Linked DNA regions of Homo sapiens. The protein of the gene in region 2 interacts with the protein of the main gene of each other region in a pairwise test. Each region holds a gene or a part of one and is shown on either strand. Other genes may lie near its edges. The genes, in order: ATF7IP and ZNF518A.

Region 1 (3,831 bases), on a different chromosome or scaffold from region 2:
AGAATGGGTCTCCTTCAACCCAGAGTAATAATCAAAGGCCCTTGGTACACAGACAACTTTAGACATAATTTCAGGTAGTTCCTGGGACTCCTGAAACTCATCCAAATAGTAGGTTAACAATGTCTTTTTTACTGCCGGGTGTGGTGGCTCACACCTATAATCCCAGCACTTTGGGAGGCCGAGGCGGGCGGATCACAAGGTCAGGAGATCGAGACCATCCTGGCTAACATGGTGAAACCCTGTCTCTACTAAAAATATAAAAAATTAGCTGTATGTAGTGGTACATGCCTGTAGTCCCAGCTACTCGGGAGGCTGAGACAGGAGAGTCGCTTGAACCCGGGAGGCGGAGCTTGCAGTGAGCCGATATCGCACCACTGCACTCCAGCCTGGGTGACAGAGCGAGACGCCATCTCAAAAAAAAAAAAAAGAATGTTTTTTTTAGAATCTGTCCTTACTTACAGATAAGTTTCTGTTATAATTCCTTTGATTTTCTTGAGGATAAGGCTATAGCCTTATCACAATTTGGCAAGTTTTCATAGTTCCATATTCTTTCCTTTCAAGCAGACTAGACAGTAAGCTCATTAAGGGCAGATACCAGATCTCATAATTTTGGTAATCCCAAACACTTTGAGAAATAGCTGAGACAAATTACATGTTTAATACTATCAGATGACTACTATCTTTAATAAGGTTCCATTAAGTAAAGGTAGAAAACTGTGTTTTTAAAGGATTACAAAATAGAATTTACATTAGGGGACTTAGTTTCCCATTTCAGAATTATACTTTATAGAACTTTATTCTAAGGAAAAATGGAGGACAAAAACCATTGCCTTAGATAAGAGATTGGCAAATCTTTTTTGTAAGCGGCCAAAAAATAGATATTTTCAATCTTGTGGGCCACATGACCTCTGTCTGACACAACCTCTTAATTCTGTCCTTGTTGCAGGAATCAGCAATAAGTGCTATGTGACATGTAAACAAATAAGTGCAATAAGTGCTATGTGACATGTAAACAAATTACCATAGCTATGTTTATGTAAATAAAACTTTATTTACAAAAACAGGGCTCACAGGCCAGTCTACCCCATTCACTGATTTAGATTACTGGCTCCATGAAAATATTTGTAACAAAACAAGAAATTCCTACAGACAAATTAAAGACAATATCCATTAGAAAAATGGGCAAAGGAGATGAACAGGCAATTCACAGATAAGGAACTATAAAAGGCCAATAAACATATAAAGATTCTCAACCTAACAAGATCTATCAGAAAAATAAGGCATGACTGGTAATGTGACTTTTCCAGACATTTTGTATTAGTTTTATTTAACCAATACAGAATGGCAAATAATATCTCCTATGTGAATTTTTGTGCTCTCTTTAAAAGCAAAACCTAGCGGGGAAAGTCCCATTGTATTATCTCCAATTCTTCCCCTCCCATTCTCTCTGAAACCCAAATCAGGTTTTCCACTCCACCATTCACCAAAACTGCCCCTTGGTAAAAGTCACCAATGATCTCCAGATTGTTAAATACTTCTCTTCCATCTTATGAGCACACACAGCAGCATTTGATATAGTAAACGGTTACCTTATTCCCTCCTCAAAACAGTGTTTTTACTTGGCTTCTGAAACACCAAAATCTCTGAAACACCAAAATCTCTCCATTTTCTTCCTACCTCAGGGGCTGCTCTTTCTCAGCTCCTTTGTTGGTTCTTCCTTATCTCCCCAACCCTAAACACTGAAATGCCAAAAGCACAATTCTTGGATCTTTTCTCCATGTATACTTACTCTGAGGTGATTTCATCTTGTCACCTAATAGCTACATGCTACCTACTATATTTTTCTAATACAAGTCAAGTCTCTGATCTGAAATCCAGACTTACACATCTAACTTGGACAACAGTACTCATTTGAAAAATGATCTTCCTCCTATACACCTCCTTCCAAAATCTACTTCATCTTTGGTCTTCCTCAACTCTGAAAAGAAAAATCTGCAACTTGCACACTAGTGAATAGAACTAAGAAGCTCCACAAAGAGAAGCCAAGTACATAAGTAACAGCTAAATATAAATGGATTGAGATGATAAAGAATTTTAACTGAACACAATAAACAGTGACAACAAATTAACAGTAAATTGACTAAATCATGCCAATTCTATCAATACTAACCTACAGCAAAAATAGAAGGAAGTCTCAAATTCTAGTCTAATGTAATTATCCTCATTAGCATCAGTTTATGTTTATTTTATTTACCTTAAAGATCCAATGAACAAGGGGAGGAAAATATCAACCACAGATTTTTATTTTAATCTGAAATAAAATCTGCAAGGAAACTATGTCAGTGTTTAATGCAAAAAAAATCTAGTTCACTCTAAAACAGATTTTTCTCTTCAAAAATCTTATGTTTAAGAAAAAAAAGCACGTGGAGGAGGCCTATCCCTATTTTTCCACAAGAAATAGAATGAGAAAGGCCAAAAAAGAAGGGAAGATGGAGAATGCAGTAACCCAACAGCTAAGGGGAGTCTCAAGAGGGAAGAACTGTTATTAAGAGGTCATCCAAGTATGGAAGAATAGATAAGACAAAGAAAAGATGTCCCCGGATTTAATAACATGATCATCAATGTCATTTCACTGAGAAAAATTAGGAGGGCGGCAGCTACCAAGGCAGAAATCAAAATCCAATTAAGTGGAAGGCCTAACAGAAGAAGAAATGGTCCTAGCTTTGTTAATATAACTTGAAGAATGGCACTAAAAGAAAGGAAAGAGATGAAATAGTAGTTAGAGGAAAGTATATGGTATGGCGATGAAGCTCCTCTAGTGTTTGAACTTTCCCAGAGAGATAAATCTTTATTTTGCTATCCTCTTTAAACAGATTATCATTTTAATAATTAGTGAGTATTAGTTATAACATAATACTATGTCACAATTCAGTAATGTCTCTAGACCTATTAAGGTATATATGCAACACTTTTTTAGTTCTTTCTTCTACTTTTGTAAAATTAAAATAGCTTTTCTATTTGCTTTATCTTTCATTATTTCTTGTTGCTGCTGATACACATCACAATTGCTTTATTTAAAACATATTTGCTCAACAAGTGCCTGAAATGACAGAAGGTTATGCTATTTTCCTTTTACTACACTCATAGATGTTAGTAGCTAGAAGGAAGAGCCAGTACTGAAGCCAACTTTAGTACTTCAGCTAATAATTCTGTGTTCTGAGTATATTAAAAATTAGTCAAGAATAAAGGCATTTATTTAAGTAACATTTCAACAGGAGTACAGCAACATAAATGACATGCAACAGATTCTGTCGCCATATAAAGAGAACAGAGTACAGTTTAAGAACCAATTAAGAAACTATTCTTAAACTCAAAATACACAAAATTACCTTCAGAGGAAGGGGAAAAGATACAAAATAAAAGTTTAGTTATGAGCCAAGAAATTAAATCTATCACTAAATTTACCCTGCTAATAGCATACCATCAGATTAAAGGCAAGTAACCAAAAATATTCCCAACTTTGAATTTTCAAAGTATGCAACATGGATGGCTTAATATTCATCTCTCAGCACTTAACTGCCTTGTGTGGGATGCCCTCCAATATCAAGATTCTGACATAAAGGTACTCATTAAATCATAAGCTGCAATTTGCTTTTTTAACTTTCTTATACAGACTTTTTTTTTTTAAAGGACTTATAAGGCTTTTTTATGGACTTGGCCTAGTGCCACACTCTGTATAGACACTTATAGGAAATGGATGAAATTCATTCTCAACACTGTCACCTATTACCTTTCCAAAATGTAAATTTCATTCTCCTCTCTGCTTGAAGT
Region 2 (3,294 bases):
ATTACAGGAAAAAGTTTCCACTAATGCCATACTCTGCTAACTAGCAACAAATACCACCCTGAAAAATCCCCCCAGTAAGTTTTGCTAGATGAGATCCCCAATGGGTCAAGGTAGTATGCTGAGAGCAAGGATCCTAACAAGTTGCTAAGGCAAAGAACAGAGCCAACGCCCCAAATGGCTCTGTTAAGAAAGTTAAGGAAGGAAGTAGATGTCAATGGTGAAAAGGAATCTTATTTTTAAAAAATCAAGATAAGCTGTATGGAATTAGTATATAATATTCTGTTTTTAATTCACCTCCATTTTCTCCCACCCCAAGAACTTCTATTACTTTTTCTTAACAGCTATTTCAAATCACTGAAAGAATATCTAAGTCCTTTTCCCATCTAACCTGGACATAAATTCTCACAGCATTTCTGCTCTATCTCATTTTTAATCCCTTCATAAGTTGCACTACTCTTAGCACACAAATGACCTATTTTACCCACTAACCATTTTCATTACATTTACAGTCTCTTCACTGTTATACAAATACATCTATACTAGAAACTTTATATACATATTTTAGTTCGTACTTTGTAGCTCTTTTACACAGGTGAGGTACATCACGAAACTTATCAAGCTTGTTTTTTTAAATAAAAATCCCATTCTGAAAGCAGACTCTAGGGAATTCAAGCAACAGTCAGTAAACTATGTCTGGTGGGCCAAATTCAGCCCACTTCCTGTTTTTATAAATTGTTTTATTAAAACATAGCCACACTAATTCATTTACATATTGTCTATGGTTTTTTTCTGCATTATGAGAATTGAGTAGTTAGGACAGAAACTAGAAGGCCTACGAAGCTTATTTATCTGACCCTTTATTGAAAAAATTTGCTAACCCCCCAATGAAAATATTTTCCATTAAAAAAACTATTACATTTCAATTTGTGTTACTGAATACTTAGCAAGATAAATTCTTTGAAAACTGAATTATGTTTTTTAAGTACTTGCCAAATAGTAAGAAACCCATTTCAGTGGAGATGGACAAACTAGAAAAAATAAAACAAATTCCTCACACAGAAATTCAACTGCAAAACTAAAACTAACTCTTCAATTGTAATAAGAACCTCGAACTACTGAAAATCATATTTTGGAAAGCCCTCTTTGGAAAGCCACACACAAAAAATAAAGGATACAGGCTTTTGTTTTGGATTTTCTGCAATGGCAATAATGAAACTCTAAGCAGGTCTGCCTCCCTCAGAATAACTTAAGTTAACAAAATCAGAAAAAGTTCCAACTAGAATATCTGGAGCACAAAGCTTACTTTAAATGGCTGTTAAAACTTAAAGGCAAGAAGTACATATCTCGACATTATTTTCCTGATATGGCTATTCTGAAATGTAATGTTATAGTGCTGCGAATATTAGCAGGAAAGTTCCTTCTCTCTCCTTGCTATTTACAGCAGGTGATGTCTCATAACAGATCTATATGTAACAAACAGAGCATTTTAATTTTATTGCTGTTAGGGTACTGAAGACTATAAGCCTCTCTATGGCTCACCTTGCCAGCATAACCATAGTAAAATTATGGTATATGTTACCTTTCTTAAACAATATATCATCTATGATTTTGGGAAGAAAAAAAATCCCACACTTTTATCTATCTTGTAGAGTTAACTAGCATTGAAAAAACACATACACTTTAAAATCTGTATTTCCTAGAGAACAAAATTTCCATCAGATTTTAGCACAGTAAAAAAATTATTGTGTAAACACAAACAAGATAAATTTAATTGAAAATGTTCATTACAGAAATTAACAATGCTTACCATTCTTTAAACACCATGTACATTATTAATATATACTGTATATTTCCAATTAACTCCATTCTTAGGCTCAATTTAAGAAACACAATTGTAACATTTTATACAAAAAATACTTCACTAAGAAAGTAGACAAACTGCACAAAACAGTACAAGTATAATGTGCATAGCAAGATAGCTTGAAGCATTCTATGTATGGCTTTCTTTAAAAATAAAACTATTAGGGGAATGGGCCCATTTGGGACCTACTGTTACAGTTGACATATGTAAACTGTTTCACATCTTTTTTAGGCACTTGCTAACAATAGTGTTCAATCCCTGAAGAACGAATTTACCTCAAAAACAAAATCTACATCTGAAATAAAAACCAAGAAAATAACATGGGTAAAGTCTTATATATTCCTTTTAAATTAAACAACCAGTTTTATTAGTGCATGCACTGAACTAAACTGAAAGAAAATAAACTTATGCCAAAAATTTCTGTGCAAAATTTACATAAAAGGTACAAAAATATGTACAGACTTAATTTGTTATATACAGAAAAGAAGCCCTGAAGTTTTCATCCATTAATGAAAATGTCATTAACACTTGTAACAATGTAACAAAAAATCATATAGCACGTAATTTGTTAACACAAGAACTCCATTATCCAAAGAACCAGCAAAATTTGATCCAAACTTACAAGGTGAAAAATCTAAATCTATGATTCTGTTGTCATCATGAAAACATCCATTTTAAAACTCTGTTGGGCATGTCCCTTAGGAATCTATCCTAAGGTTTTATGCACTGCCTCTGGGTCCACTATTGATGCTTCCTTTTGCAAATGCCAACAATCTGTATATATGTTTTGGGTTGTCAGTCACACTGAGAAGCAGCTAACAGAAATGCTTTGTCCTAATTTGGACATGTTCAAATAATAAAGTGAATACAGACAAAAATATGATCTTGCTTCAAAATACTGTTTTGGTAAACAATTTTAATTTTCAAGAAAAGCCACTCCCTTGGAAGTGCTCCTATGTTCCACTCTTTTTAAAGGGATGGGAACCAAGAAGAAAAAAATGGCCATTTGTTTATGGAGGACAAACATGAGATAAGCATAGTTCTGTGCAAAGGGATCATCAGAGAATATAATCAAATTTAGAAATATGTTCAAGTTCTTTAACCAAACTTTCAATGAGACAAAGAGTTTAAATTCTTCTCTTGAAGCTGCCCATCTACTGCAACATTTGACACAGTCACTTAGAAAAAGAAAATCACCTTGGGAGAGTGTTCCCAATCTCTAACAAGTGACAGAGTTCAACTGGAAAAAAAATTTACTTGCCAAAAACTCTTCAAGCATTGTATGAGGTGTAACTGTAGTGAGTTAAATGTACTTTCAAGGAGCCTAATATCCTTCAAAATAACTATATTTAGCAGATATAGAGTGACTTCTTTACCCAGGTTCTCTCAAAGTATCTTCACAAATGTGAGAAACTCCTTCAGTTCTACGATGA

The links.
Region 1: the proteins of ZNF518A (region 2) and ATF7IP interact in a two-hybrid assay, tested with the Homo sapiens proteins (one large-scale study listed by IntAct).

Annotation. Positions count from the first base shown.
Region 1 is NC_000012.12:14,427,995-14,431,825, reverse strand, and holds part of ATF7IP (activating transcription factor 7-interacting protein 1), read right to left. Parts: intron 1-3,831. UniProt on the Homo sapiens protein: Recruiter that couples transcriptional factors to general transcription apparatus and thereby modulates transcription regulation and chromatin formation. Can both act as an activator or a repressor depending on the context.
Region 2 is NC_000010.11:96,161,188-96,164,481, reverse strand, and holds the end of ZNF518A (zinc finger protein 518A), read right to left. Parts: 3' UTR 723-3,294; downstream 1-722.